Linked DNA regions of Homo sapiens. The protein of the gene in region 1 purifies or fractionates together with the protein of each later gene. This does not show direct contact. Each region holds a gene or a part of one and is shown on either strand. Other genes may lie near its edges.

Region 1 (3,500 bases):
ACAGAGTGAGACTCTGCCTCAAAAAAAAGAAAAAAGTTTAAAGCCATATGTTCCCCCCTTTTTTTTTTTTTTTTGATCCACCTGCCTCGGCCTCCCAAAGTGCTGGGATTACAGGTGTGAGCCACTACACCTGGCCTCCATTTGTTCCCTTTTTATGGTTACTTCTGTTAAAAATCTGGCCACTGATAAACCTCTAACTCTACTATTTCTTCCACTGGAAATACATGTGCAATATGCTGTTTGCTGTCTCTCAAATATGTAAAAAATGTGATTCATCAAGCACCTTAAACATAACAGCTATTCAATAGAAGCTGCACAATTAACTATAAAGTTGACAGAGTAAAACTCTCCCTTGGAAACTAGAAGTCACTGATTTAAAAAACAGAAGGGAAGTAAAGATGAACGGAAAGTTAGTATACCGACGGTCATACTTTATTATCCATAGAAACAACAGATAGATAACAAACACGAAGTCCCTACTGACTTACATGGGAGCCTCTATCTGTTCTTCTGAGTGAGTTTCATGACAAACAATGGAACCAAACACTTTCGAGAAATGAGGCTAGACCATGGGAAATGCAACACAAATGTGGCCTCTGCCCACTTGCAACACAGGAAATAAAACAAGTCTAGGGAGAAAGTAAACTATGATAAAGAAAAAGTGGGGATAAAAGGTCCCTCTGCTTTAGACAAACCAAATCAGAAATAGTGTTCCTTTTCCCAAATTTCATGGGGTTTTCCTCAATTCACTCTTACCCCATAGAATCTTCCATCCACTCTCTTCTAGCCTTCCTGCCTTCACCCCCAAATGCTTTCCTTGTCTCTAGGGAACCAAGGCCCATCCCTGCCGATACAACATTTACATGAACCTGAGCACTGACAAGACATTCCTTGCCCCCAATTCCCCAAGCCCACAGGTGTATCCTAGCTACTCCAATCTTCCATGATGAGTCTAAAAGATCACCCCCTTGCATAGCCCTCTAGGCTATCTCCAGCCTATCCCTTCAATGCACGGCTTGTACACACACCGTGTGGAGTTATCTGGCACCTTCAGGTTCACTTTTAGCCACCCTGGGCCCCCGGAATATGGTGACAGATGGGACAGCTGATACCCAGCACTATGGCTGAATATATACATAGTAGGAGCTCAACAAACTTTTGGAATGAAGGTGTTCCCTAACTCCAAGCTTTCTTGGACCCCTTCCTCCCATGCTCTGTAAGATCTTCAAGACCCACCTCTAATTCCTGTAGGTTTCTCAGGCCTCTCACGCCCTAGCCTCCATCTCTAGCCCTATAGACACTCAAGCAATCTTACACTACTTACCAGCTCTCAACTTCATCTCCTCTGTCTTTTTGCTCAATCACTGTGATGCTAATAGAGACACAGACCCATTTCTGGACCTCAGTCCTCATCCTTACCATTATCCATCAGACTATGTCACCGGACAAAGATCTCATGCTCATATCCTAGAGGACCACTCTCCATCCACCCATGTGGCTCTCCCTGTACTTACCTTACTGAAGGAGAAGACTGGGATGGCAGGCTCCATCCATTTAGGAACCTGAGGATAATCTCGTACATTGATCACCATCTCCATGTCAGGGAGACGCCCGATCACTTCCAAAATAAAGTGCTCAACACCACTACACCTGTCAACCAGACATACCATAAATTCAGCAGAGTAGTGCCTGCAGGCTCTAGGACAAGGCGAGGTCCCATTCACATTTTAAAGTAAGACAAGCCAGTGTTCCAGTGTTCCATATCATCAGTCTACTGCAAAGTCTCCTGAAAACAATGCTTCTAAAGGGGCTATTCTGCTTTTTTGTATTGTGCAAGTTCACTCATAGCTAAGCTGCTCCAGCTTACAATACTTAATAAAATTTTCCAAATAAATCGTCATAGCTTTGAAGGGAGTATTATTGCTACTTCTACCACTTTATTCATTCCAGTTCTTTTCTTTATTTCCCTTATATGGAATAGTTTAATTAGTAGACAAGATACAAACTCTCGTAATAGCTGAAATAGCTAATTTTCCACCTGTGTTCCTTTGGCTTTGCTCCTCACAAAGACACCATTTTTATTTCCATTATAATTAAGTCTCCTAGTTTATGAGAACAGATAGAAAACCTTTCATTACCTTCAACCTGAATAAAGAACATTATCAAAATCAGTTCTGCAAGCCAGAAAAAGTGTTATATACATAATCATAAATAGTGTAACACAGCTTTCTGACTAGATTCCCTGGGAAATCAGGGATTTCTTGAAAGAAAAAGAAGATACACTGACAGTTTAGCTTGTTTCTGCCTCATCCTCTGAGGTCCTGACCAGCACTATGCTAGGGGCAATATTCAAAGGCTTGATCAAAATTTTCTGGCAGCATGGAAATAACTGATTTAAAATATTGTTTTACTACTTGGGAGACTTAGGCAGAAGGGTTATTTGAGCCCAAGAGTTCTAGACCAGCAACATAGTGACACAGTAGGCAATGTAGTGAGCTCCTCTAGCCAAAAAAAAAAAAAGTGTTTTTTATATAGGGAGATAACTGCAAAAAATATCAACAGTTCACAAACATAGGAAAAGATGCTCAACTGTATTAATAATAAAGAAATGTCAATGAAACTAGATACCAATTTTACCAATCAGATTGGCAAAGATCAAAAAGTCCAATAGTGCAGTGTTGGTAAGGGTGTGAGATCTATTCACAGCATATGATATATCGGTTGTGGAAGTGTTTAGCCTCTTTGTAGGACAATTAGATTCTATTTACCAAGATTTCTCTTTTTTTAAGGTTTTTTTTATTTGAGGCAGGGTCTCTCGCTCTGCCACTCAGGCTGAAGAGTGCAGTGGCATGATCATGGCTCACTGTGGCCTCAAAAATCCTAGGCTCAAGCAATCTTCTCACCTCAGCCTCCTGAGTAGCTGGGACTACAGGTGTGTGCCAACACACCTGGCAACTCTGTATGTGTTTGTGTGTGTGTGTGTGTGTGTGTGTGTGTGTGTGTGTGTGGAGAGACAGTCTTGGTATGTTGTCCAGACTGATCTTGAACTCTTGGGCTCAAGTGATCCTCCCACCTCAGCCTCCCAAAGTGCTGGGATTACAGGTGAGAGCCACTGTGCCCAGCCTGTTTATCAAGATTTTTTTTTTTTTTTGAGATGGAGCCTTGCTCTGTGGCCCAGGCTGGAGTGCAATGGCGCAATCTCAGCTGACTGCAACCTCCACCTCGGGTTTCAAGTGATTCTCCTGCCTCAGCCTCCCGAGTAGCTAGGATTACAGGCACAGGCCACCATGCCCAGCTAATTTTTTTATTTTTAGTAGAGATAGGTTCTCACCATGTTGGCCAGGCTGGTCTTGAACTCCTGACCTCAGATGATCTGCCTGTCTCAGCCATCCAAAGTGCTGGGATAACAGGCGTGAGCCACCTCACCCAGCCTATTTATCAAGATTTTAAAATGACATTAATTGCCCTAGTTATTATACTTTTAGGAATTTAGCCTACAT
Region 2 (3,500 bases), on another chromosome or scaffold:
TGTGCAACATAACAAGACCCTGCCTCTGTGAAAAAATTAAAGGCATGGCGGTTCATGCCTGTAGTCCTAGGGAAGCGGAGGTAGGAGGATTGCTTGAGCCGAGCAGTCTGAGACTGCAATGAGCCATGATCATGCCACTGCACTCCGGCATAGCTGACAGAGCAACAGTCTGTCTCTTAAAAAAAAAAAAAAAAGGCTGCAGGGTGTGTACAGGGGATTATTACACTATTCTGTTTGGGTTTGGGTTTGAAATTTTCCAAAGGAGAAGATTTAAAAGAATAATAACAGAAAAACCTATAGAATATGCAGTTAGGATGTCTGAAATAGAGATTTTGAAGGTGGTACAAATAATGGTGCTGAAAATAAGTGAAACTATTCACCGTATGTTTGAAAATATAGGAATCAACTAAAGTACTGAAAGGTTTTTAAGTTTGGCCGTTTGGGATATGGTACAACCTCTTCCTCAGAGGTCTTTTACTTTACTACTAGTCTCCCCCTACACCAAAGAAAGGCAAGTGCTTTAGTGCTATGCCTGGCACCTAATAGGAAGCACTAATATTATCTTCTCCTTAGAAAAATAATAGAAAATAAAAATAAATTTTAATAAAAATAGAAATAAAAAAATTTAATTAACTGTACCTCTTTACCCCTCCCAAGGAAGCAAAACACCATCTACTCCAGCTCTGCTATCTTCCTAGCTTCAAAAGCCTAACGTTGCCAAACCCTTTCCCTACCTTAAAGAGTCTATGAATCATCACAAAACCCAATGCTCCAGAAAGGAGGCAAAAGTAAGTGAAAAAGGAAGCTACTGTCCTTGTACAGTCCTATTAAGAATCACCAGTATTATGTGTTTTAATTATTGCTGTTTTATAAATTACTTCTGAACCTGGCACAGTGAGGCTCCCGTTCCAGTTTTGAGAAACTATTCCTTACTCTTTATGCCTGTGTAGCTTTTCAGAGGTACTTCAGGAACTACCCTGGGAAATGAGAGTTTGGGGGACCTGGAGAGGACATGAGAGGGCGGGCTGGGGGCCTGGTTCAGGACTCAGGTCCTCACTTGGTTTGTTCTCCTTGCCCTTGGAGGTGATGGTGAGGGTGTGCACATACAGCCGCAGATACCAGGGTACGGTGTCCAGCAGCAGCACCGGGAAGGCCCGGTATGGGTGGGTGTTGTACAGCAGTGTGCTCAGCTCCCCCTTCTGCAGCCCATAGCCACTCACGTACCGCTGGGCATGCAGGAAGGGCACTGGGGGGGCCTCTGTGTAAAGAAATATCAACAGTTAACAGCTGCCAAAGGTAAGAATCACTCCCCACCCCACCTGCCCAGGCCATGTTCAGAGTCCCAAGCCAGTGAGTAGATGGGGAACAGCCCTGCCACTGAAACTGGGCAATCTGGGTTCTGGAATCATCCCTGTCTTCCCCAGCCAACAAGCGATGATGACAATAGGTTGCTAGTATTGAAGTGCTTACGTGACGAACACCGTGCCCCCTTCGAACCCAATCCAGGTCCTCTCAGGATATTCTGCTCTTTCCCTTGGTAAGGGAACTGAACACAACTGTAATTAATTAACTGACACCTGCCCTAGCTAGTAGACTTATATTTCTTGAGTGCAGTGTCCTCTGTCTTATTCAACACTCTATGCCTGGCACTTAGTATGAATTCAAAAGTATTTGGTTGATTAAGCAAATGCATGAACTAACTCCATTTTTCACATCATCTCATCCAATTTGCTAAGTATACTCTATTTTTCAGATGTGGATGCTGAAGCTTGGGGAGTTTAGGAACCTACCCAAAATCGTAGAGCTTGGAATAGCTACAGTCAGCAGCATATGACTCTGGAAATCTGGTCTAAATACAACCCAATCATCTAACGGCAAAGACGTGGGATTGTGAGTCTTTTCTCTGTAGCCGTTGCAACCCAGCAGTCCAACCAACCACCCACTCACCATTCTCTGGGGGTCTCTTCCACTTGAGCTGGATGTTGAGGTTTCGAGAGTTGTTGATCATGGCGGTGTCAAGCAAGTCATAGATGGCATAGGTCTTCCGAGTGCCTAGGATGACGTCCTGATATGTAGTGGTCGGGGGTGGGTGCACCTCTAATGTCTCGTTGTCCTGGGGACACAAAGGCAGGGCTAAGAAGCAAGCAGAGAGGGTAGGCTGGTCCTGGGGACCAGCGGTGTGTTTGTGTGTGTGGCTGGAGACCTTGTTACCTGGTTGTAGGTGGTGATGTCCACATAGACTCGGCTCTCTGAAGCCAGGGGGCAGGGCTCCGTGAGGGTTCGGGAGAACATCCGGAAGAGGGACCAGTCTGAGAAACAGAGCGCAGGGCTGAGCAGGGGCCAGGCCTAGGCCTAGTCCACATAGATAAGGCAGGGCTGGCATGGGTGGGTACAGATGAGTTGCCAAGGTAACTTACCTTTCTTTCCCTGCCCCGTGATGAAGGCATCAAATACAACTGACAGGGTCTGCCTCAGCTCCCAGGAGATGCTAGTACAGCGTGCATTCTATCACAAGGGCCAGATGGCAGCAGTGAGGGGGTATCACTCTCACCACACAGCCCCCAAAAAGACTCCTACTCAGACTCAATCCCTCATCTATGTATCTTCACATCCATCGATTTGCTACCACCCACTCCTGAGCACTTGACCTCGTGCCAGACCCCGTGCTGACAGCTGTATGTGCATCAGTTTGATAAACTATCACAACAACCCTAGGAGTGGATTCTACTATCAATGTCATGTGGCAGGGTGGGAAACCAAGCTCAGGGGAATGAAATGATTCACCCAAGGTTACGCCAGCTGGCAAGTGACTGAGCTAGCAATTGCACCCGCATAGCTATTGTTCTGAACCACTATTTTCCATGACAAATATTTATTCAGTGCTTGCTAGGCAACCACTGTTTTCTTGGTGCTTGGCCAATGCCCTGAATAACCGTCATCACATCTACCACTCAGTACTCACTCAGCCTGAGCCAGACACTGACCACATGCTTTACATGTACCTTCTCTGAGCCCCTGGATGGCAGCTTCCTCTACTCCCCATGACTTACTCTGCAAACAGGGCGGATATGCACTGCCTGGGAGTGGTAGCTGGTGTGGAACAAGCGATCTGCCTTCAGCAGCACAGAGAGGCCTGCCTGGAGGAGATGGAAAGAGATAAGAGAAGCCCTGTATGGAGCACTTGGCATGGGGCGCAGGTTCTCTATACACCCCCCGCCCCCGGCTGCCAGGCTCTGCGGCCTCACCTTGGAACTACAGGGCAAGAGCTTCTTCCAGGGGGTGAGGTTTTCGGTGCAGACCACCTCCCGCGGCAGCACAGCATAGCGCAGAAAGTAGTGGTCAGTGTCTGAGGGAGACAGAGGTCTGTCTGGGGTGGGCCTTGGGCTCTGACCCCTCGGGATCCACATTCCAGAGATGGGAATGACCCTCCTGCTCCCCACACCACCTCTAGCACCACAGTCTGGACAGTCCCAACTGGGAGTAGGACTCCCTTCTCTCCT
Region 3 (3,500 bases), on another chromosome or scaffold:
TACTTCAGATTTATTACTATGGGGGCTGGAGAGAAATCTTGAAATAGGTGAATTCTAGATTATAAAAATCTCCAAGAACACATCCTTGCAAAACAACAACAAAAAACACAAATAAACAAATAAAAAAATCAATGCAACTGCCTTCTACTTTATTCAGAATGTTTGCATCTTTACTTATGAATATTTTAGACTAGTGGTCCCAGTGGTTTTTCCTAAGCCACACATGTGCAAGCATGTGCTCCTAAACAAACCCAGAGTCCTACTATAAATATCACTTTATTCATTCTGTGTAGGCAATTAAATAAAACATTCCTTTTAAAACCTTATTTTAAAAACTAAATACATATACTGGTGTTTCTGCTAAAGCCCACAGTATCTCTTTATTGCCTCAGTGGTAATAACCAGCTGCTCACTGTCTTTCACATAAAAACCATCAGGAACCTGAAGAGTGTTCTAATTCTCATTCTACTCCAACCTGAGTTCTCTCACCTTTCTCATAAGTCTAACAACTATTTTATTAGTGTGGTGACTCCCTTCTAAGTATCTCCCAGTATTTCACATCCCTCTTGAGTCTCAGAGCCTGAAAATAATGGATGTTGAGAGGAAATGGAATAATTACAGTCAGGTGTCAGAGTTGGTTACTTCTTCCTCCAGAAAAACTGGACCTATGAAGATGCCAAGAACTCCTATGTCTGCCCAAGCCAGGGAGGTAGGTGGTCAGAACCTCCTCATCTGTCCCCTTATCTGGATTTCCAATTAGAATGGACATTGTTACAAGCTAGTTTCAACAATATTCACAACAATATTCACAAGCCAATTGTTTTTAAAGTCTTTCTATTGTATACCCAGAAAGGATATTGTTTTTCAGCTTACAAGAATCAAGGCAAAATGAAGGGTGTAAATAAACTCAATGACTTTCCACTTATGATTGGCTATTCAGGGGAAAAAAGAAAGAAAGCAAAAGGGCAAGGTTGGTATAATATTTGAAAATAAATAATAATGGCAAGAATATTTGCTTCAAGTTGAATAGTAATAGAAAGATGAGTAGATGCTGTATTTAAAATAGTATAATGTTAGTATTGAGTATCCACAGTAAGACCTCAAATATCCCTCTTAATAGTGCACATTTAAAACACAGATTGCGCTGGGCGTGGTGGCTCACTCCCGTAATGCCAGCACTTTGGGAGGCTGAGGCAGGCGATCACCTGAGGTCAGGTGTTTGAGACCAGCCTGGCCAACACGGCGAAACCCCATCTCTACTAAAAATACAAAAATTAGCCGGGCATGGTGGCGGGCGCCTGTAATCCCAGCTACTCGGGAGGCTGAGGCAAAAGAATTGCTTGAACCCGGGAGGCGGAGGTTGCAGTAAGCTGAGATCATGCCACTGCACTCCAGCCGGGGCAACCAGAACAAGACTCCGTCTCAAAAAATAAAAAAAATTAAAAAAGAAAAAACAAAACAAAACACAGATTGCATTGGAATATTTTAGTGCAATGCAATGGGGAAATAAAGAACACTATCTCAATGGGCAAAGAGTCTTCATCTCTACATTTAGAAAAGCTGGAGGAAGTTTTCCAAGATCTTGTTTGACCTCTCTTTTCTTCAGAATGCATTTTGGAAAATGAATTTTAAAAGCAACTTACTGTTCTGCAGCCCTCATCAAATACCCTTGTATCTCCTCTGCTGAATTTGGGGAAGGAAGAAGACACTCACCACACTAAAAAAAGCCAGACCATTGGGAAGTATGTCAATATCTTCAGAGCCAGCTTCTGTAAGTTTAAGGAACAGATAAATGTCATGTTCAAGTTCTGTTATTTGTTACACAGAGCATAACTGGGACTCTGTTTACTTTATCAGAGTGACTGTATCTTTAGGGATGGTTCTGATGTTTTTTCCAAGGAACCATTCTTTTTAATAAATGTCAGTTTAAACCCCTTCCTGAAGTGAACTTCTGACTTTAAATGTTAGATATTTTATGTTTACTCAAATCAAAGTCAAGTTATCACCACATTTCCAGCTATAATACTGAAAAAGTTGACATCTGTACACTCTCATGATAAACATCCAGATGTCCGTATAAAAGTAATTGACATCAGGGGAATATTACTTTCTGAAGGAAGGGCTCATAGGCATTTAACCATGCAAATATCCTTGTCCTCTTCTTTGCTCATTCAATCTGAAGCAAACAGACATCTTTCTCATTAACAGAGGTAAAACACCTGGGATTATATATTCCTTCTTTTAAAAACAGTGCCTACTTGTGCTCATAAGCAAAGAAAGCTTTTCTATTTAATCTTTAAATTTAGGCTTTAAATTAGAGAAAAAAACTAGCAGAAGAAAATTAATGAAAAATACCATGCACCTAAGCCAGTTGAAGTTTCTAACTCCTGTCTCTGAGGCAGGCTACAATTACTATTGATTGTTTATTGACTGTCTGCAGTACACTCCACACAGCACAGCAAATAATTAGACATAAGACTTTCCCCAGCAGTCTCACTGTATAAATTCTACAGACAGATAATAGACCCAAACACAAGAAAAGAAGAATAAAAATGGCTTAGATTAAGCCAAACCATGACACATTCTTTGAGTCTACAAAATCCAATCTTCCTCTTTAAGACTTCTCCATAGGATTTCTTCAAGGTTATTTCTAGGTTGTCAAAACCAAACAGCATCTATCTATCCAGCCATTTTGGTCTTGCTTCATGAGTTTGCATTTAGCCAGTTGCCTCCAGTGTTGCTTGCTCCATCGTAGTGCAGAAAAACAAAACAAAATAAAAATGCCAAGAACTTCACATTGTAAAGATGACCCATCTGCCTGCTCCTCAGAAAGAAGATACACAGAAATAAGCTTAAGCATGGCATAGCGGAGGAGTTCTCAATCTGGGGTCTGTGGATCACTTTTGGGCTTCAAAGTATCTGTGAACCCTCGGAAATTCTATGCAATGCAAAATGTCTCATGTATGCACAGATGAGAACGTTTCTGTAAAAACGGTCCTTGATTTTCATCAGATTCAAAAAAGAGACTGTGATTCCCCCAAAAAGGTTAAGAATGACTAGACTCTAGTTCCACGGTGGTTGTCCACTGGTAATAAGTTAAGAATCAGGGGAACGCTACACCACATACACATGTATACACAGCACATACACATGTACACACAGACACACACACACACACACACACACACACACACACACCGAGAGAGAATTCTAGTCCAGGTTTTGCTTTTCAGTCCTATTTAGTAGAAGCTCAATTAATTAAAATTTGTTTTTCCTGAAAATTATTTTAGAAAATTTAATTTCCAAGTATACACGTGGAAAAAGAAGATATATAGAAAAAATTAACAATGCTTCTTTGATAGGATTATGAATGATTTTTATTTTTTTCTTTATACTTTGTTTAAAATTTTCTACAAAATTGTATATTTTTTAATAATTAAGGAAAGAGAAATCTTTTTTTAAAAAAATACATTTATTTCAACCATATTGTAACTTCTGTT
Region 4 (3,500 bases), on another chromosome or scaffold:
AACTAAGAATGCTAGGAAAAAAATTATTTCAGGGTTACCTATGTTTTAAGGACTGACAGATTAAAACTCTGTAAGATATAAACTTTCAGGATTGACAAATTAAAACTCCTTAAGATCTAGACTTTCAATGACAAATGTGTTGAAGAGTGATACTCAAACATACTTGAAGCCTTATGATAAAAGTCAAATGTTACTTCTTCTTCAGGAGCTTTTTGAAGCTGTTGCTTCTCTTCTAGTAAACCCAATGCCAGAATATGAAAAGCCTGAAGGAGGAAAATAAGAGATCTTTAAAATTGCGCTTCTTCAGGTAAATATATTTTTAATTTAATTTTAATTTTTTTCAGAGACTGGTCTCACTCTGTCACCCAGGTTGGAGTGCAGTGGGGCAATCCTAGCTTACTGCAGCCTTAAGCTCTTGGGCTCAAGTGATCCTCCTGCCTCAGCCTCCTGAGTAGCTGGGGACTAGAGGTGCACACGACCACGCCCAGCTAAATTTTTTTTGGAGGGGGCGGGGGGTATAGACAGCATCTCACTATGTTGGCCAGGCTGGTCTTAAACTCCTGCGCTCAAGTGATCCTCCTGCTTCAGCTTCCCAAAGTGCTGCAATTACAGGTATGGGCCACCATGCCTAGCAAGGTAAATCTATTTTAAGTAGAAGTATAAAAATAAGAAAGCTGATAGGTAAAAAACACGGAAAGGTTTCAGCAGTTCACATTAAGCAGTTTACAGAAAGAGAAATGATGAATACACATATGAAAAATGTTCAACCTGGCCCGGAGCTGGTGGCTCACTTCTGTAATCCCAGCACTTTCGGAGGTTTGGGTGGGTGGATCACCTGAGGTCAGGAGTTCATGACCAGCCTGGTCAACATGGTGAAACCTTGTCTCTACTAAAAATACAAAATTAGCCAGGTGTGGTGGTGGGCATCTGTAATCCCAGCTGCTTGGGAGGCTGAGGCAGGAGAATCGCTTGAACCCAGAGGCGGAAGTTGCAGTGAGCCAAGATTGTGTCACTGCACTCCAGCCTACTCCAGCCTGGGTGACAAGTGAAACTCCATCTCAAAAAAAAAAAAAAAAAAAAAAAAAAAAGTTCAACCTCACTTAAAGAAAAATGAGTTGAAACAAGATCATCCTATTTTTCACCTATTACAGTGGCAAAAATTTTGGTGTTTAGTAAAATATAGAGCTGGCATAGGTATTGGGAAGTAGGCACTTTTGACCATAGTGGTGATGGTAAAGTAAACTGGTATAACATTTTTGGAGGCCAATTTGAAAACATCTATCAAAAATGTAAAGGTATATACCAACTATTAGGAATTAGTATGACAAATACGCTCCCTTAGGTATGCAAAAACATTTGTATAAGAACGTACATTTTATTGTTCTTTGTTACAGCAAAGACCTAGAAACACCTGAATGTCTATTAATAGGAGACTACTGAAACACATTATATCCATACAATGGACTACGCAGCTATCAAGAATAAGTAGATCTATATGCACTAATGTGCAATGATTTCCAGAATATACAAAACTTTAACAATGCTTATGTCCTATATAGCATACTGGGACTCAGGGAGAGAAATTTTAACTTGGTTTCAAACATATCTCTATGGTTTGAAATTTACTAGTGAATGTATTTATCAGTGTTATAATAAAAATTGAGGCACACATATGGCAATGACAGCATTTAGAACCTGTAGACCAACAATACTCAAGGAAAAAGGAACATTTAGTTAGGCAGGTATAAATAAATATGGTGTTACAACTACCATGACGTGGCATAATTAAGTAACGTGTATTTATCTACAACAGTAACAAGGAAAAGTAGCTGCTTTCACTTTAGCTAATTCTCCTACCTCTATGAATAATTACACTTTTATCCATTTTACTAATGAGAAAATTATTATTTGCTCCTTAAATAGGAAGTGGGGAAACCCAAGACTGACGTCTAGACCTATCTTCAAATTTTATTATACTGTCTCCTTATAATTCAAGTAAAATTAAAAATATAAAAAATCATGACACAATAACAACATGTCAATTTATTAGCATAAGTACACCTGTTTTTGTTTTCATGGGTTTTATTAAACAGAAATGGTTCCCAAGAGTAAGGATGCTAAAAACACGAGATCACTAAAAAAAATTTGTGCTGTGTGTAAGCTATTTTTAATGACCCCTATGTTTCCGGTGCTCTAGATGTGGTTCCAACTGAAGTTAGACCTGAGATCTTCCCTAGCTCCCCAAGAACTCTAGGACTTGATGTAGAGAAAATATTTCAGGTAAACAAACCATTTGGAGCATCCCTTCGGTCCACAAGTTAGAATCTGTGTCTATTGCCCGCTCAAATACGGTCCTGAGAATGTACATCATGATATCACAGTTGAGAAGGTTAATCACTTTGCTGAAAGCAGGGCAGAATTCAGGAGGTGGTGGTGGCGGCAATGCTATAGGAGGTGGGGAATGGATGGGGAAAGAGACAAACAGGTACATTTTTATTTGGGTTATCCTACATACTAAAGTGCAAATGTCAAAAAATAATAGGTTACATGCAAAACAACACATGCTTTTTTGCTACCTTTCCAGTACTGAAAATATCAATGTTAAGTGTAATGTAAGTACTATATCAGTCACCCAAAATGAACTACATTTGTTATCAATTTTAAATTCAATCACTACTGATATATACCATATCTTAATATGTGAATAAGAAGCAAAAAGCTCTTTGCACTTCCTTGAGTTGCCCACTCTCAAAAACCAACAACAACAAAAAACTATATGCTTTGCTGATGTGAAACCACAGAAAATAGTCAAAATGAGTCAATTCAGAATCTCACTTTTTACCTTCATCTTTGTTTTCTTGTTTTCTCCTTTTCTTCTGCATATGTTCAGCCTATAAAAAAATCTATCATTAAATATACTGCTTTGGAAGCATGAAACAAATGAAATACATTAAAGCAGTCAGGAAAGACCCAACCACCTATTAAAATACTTTATATACTGAAGCATGTATTCAAAATGCCTCTTTGTCCTAGAAATAAAATTGTGTTCTAGAGAAACCTAATGCAAAATAGATGAGGAATATCCCTGATCAAAAACTTAGTCTCCATTATTTTCTACTGAAAATATTTACCCAGTACCTATTATGCACAGGGTACTATGCTATGGGCTGTAAAGTATTTACTTGATAAGGACAAAGCCAGACATCACCTTAACTAACTGATCAAACTTAACATGATCCTTCATGGGACAAAAAGACGTATGTGCCTAATAATGGGATGCAATATATCATTTACATAGTATTCTTGCCAAAAACTGTTTAAGCTGAATCTATTTGGTACTCTATAGAAATGCCGATGTTACAAAAGAAAAAAATGCAAAAGAATTATCTTCTAAATTAAAGGAAACTATTGGCCGGGCGAGGTGGCTCACGCCTGTAATCCCAGGACGTTGGGAGGCCGAGGTGGGTGGAATCATTTGAGGTCAGGAATTTGAGACCAGC

What was found. Proteins that work in one complex are often made in the same cells at the same time.
Region 2: the proteins of POGLUT1 (region 1) and PIGT purify together in Homo sapiens (affinity purification with mass spectrometry; 2 studies listed by BioGRID and IntAct, with this or other methods). This does not show direct contact.
Region 3: the proteins of POGLUT1 (region 1) and PON2 purify together in Homo sapiens (affinity purification with mass spectrometry; 3 studies listed by BioGRID and IntAct, with this or other methods). This does not show direct contact.
Region 4: the proteins of POGLUT1 (region 1) and UBR1 purify together in Homo sapiens (co-immunoprecipitation; 2 studies listed by BioGRID and IntAct, with this or other methods). This does not show direct contact.

Annotation. Positions count from the first base shown.
Region 1 is NC_000003.12:119,475,463-119,478,962, reverse strand, and holds part of POGLUT1 (protein O-glucosyltransferase 1 precursor), read right to left. Parts: intron 1,651-3,500; coding exon 1,515-1,650; intron 630-1,514; exon of another isoform or gene 489-629; intron 1-488. UniProt on the Homo sapiens protein: Dual specificity glycosyltransferase that catalyzes the transfer of glucose and xylose from UDP-glucose and UDP-xylose, respectively, to a serine residue found in the consensus sequence of C-X-S-X-P-C.
Region 2 is NC_000020.11:45,419,141-45,422,640, reverse strand, and holds part of PIGT (GPI-anchor transamidase component PIGT isoform 1 precursor), read right to left. Parts: intron 3,347-3,500; coding exon 3,246-3,346; intron 3,169-3,245; exon of another isoform or gene 3,138-3,168; coding exon 3,051-3,137; intron 2,506-3,050; coding exon 2,418-2,505; intron 2,310-2,417; coding exon 2,212-2,309; intron 2,114-2,211; coding exon 1,948-2,113; intron 1,259-1,947; coding exon 1,058-1,258; intron 1-1,057. UniProt on the Homo sapiens protein: Component of the glycosylphosphatidylinositol-anchor (GPI-anchor) transamidase (GPI-T) complex that catalyzes the formation of the linkage between a proprotein and a GPI-anchor and participates in GPI anchored protein biosynthesis.
Region 3 is NC_000007.14:95,414,529-95,418,028, forward strand, and holds part of PON2 (serum paraoxonase/arylesterase 2), read right to left. Parts: intron 1,770-3,500; coding exon 1,714-1,769; exon of another isoform or gene 1,661-1,713; coding exon of another isoform or gene 1,644-1,660; intron 1-1,643. UniProt on the Homo sapiens protein: Capable of hydrolyzing lactones and a number of aromatic carboxylic acid esters. Has antioxidant activity. Is not associated with high density lipoprotein.
Region 4 is NC_000015.10:43,022,539-43,026,038, forward strand, and holds part of UBR1 (E3 ubiquitin-protein ligase UBR1), read right to left. Parts: intron 2,892-3,500; coding exon 2,843-2,891; intron 2,446-2,842; coding exon 2,291-2,445; intron 264-2,290; coding exon 164-263; intron 1-163. UniProt on the Homo sapiens protein: E3 ubiquitin-protein ligase which is a component of the N-end rule pathway. Recognizes and binds proteins bearing specific N-terminal residues that are destabilizing according to the N-end rule, leading to their ubiquitination and subsequent degradation.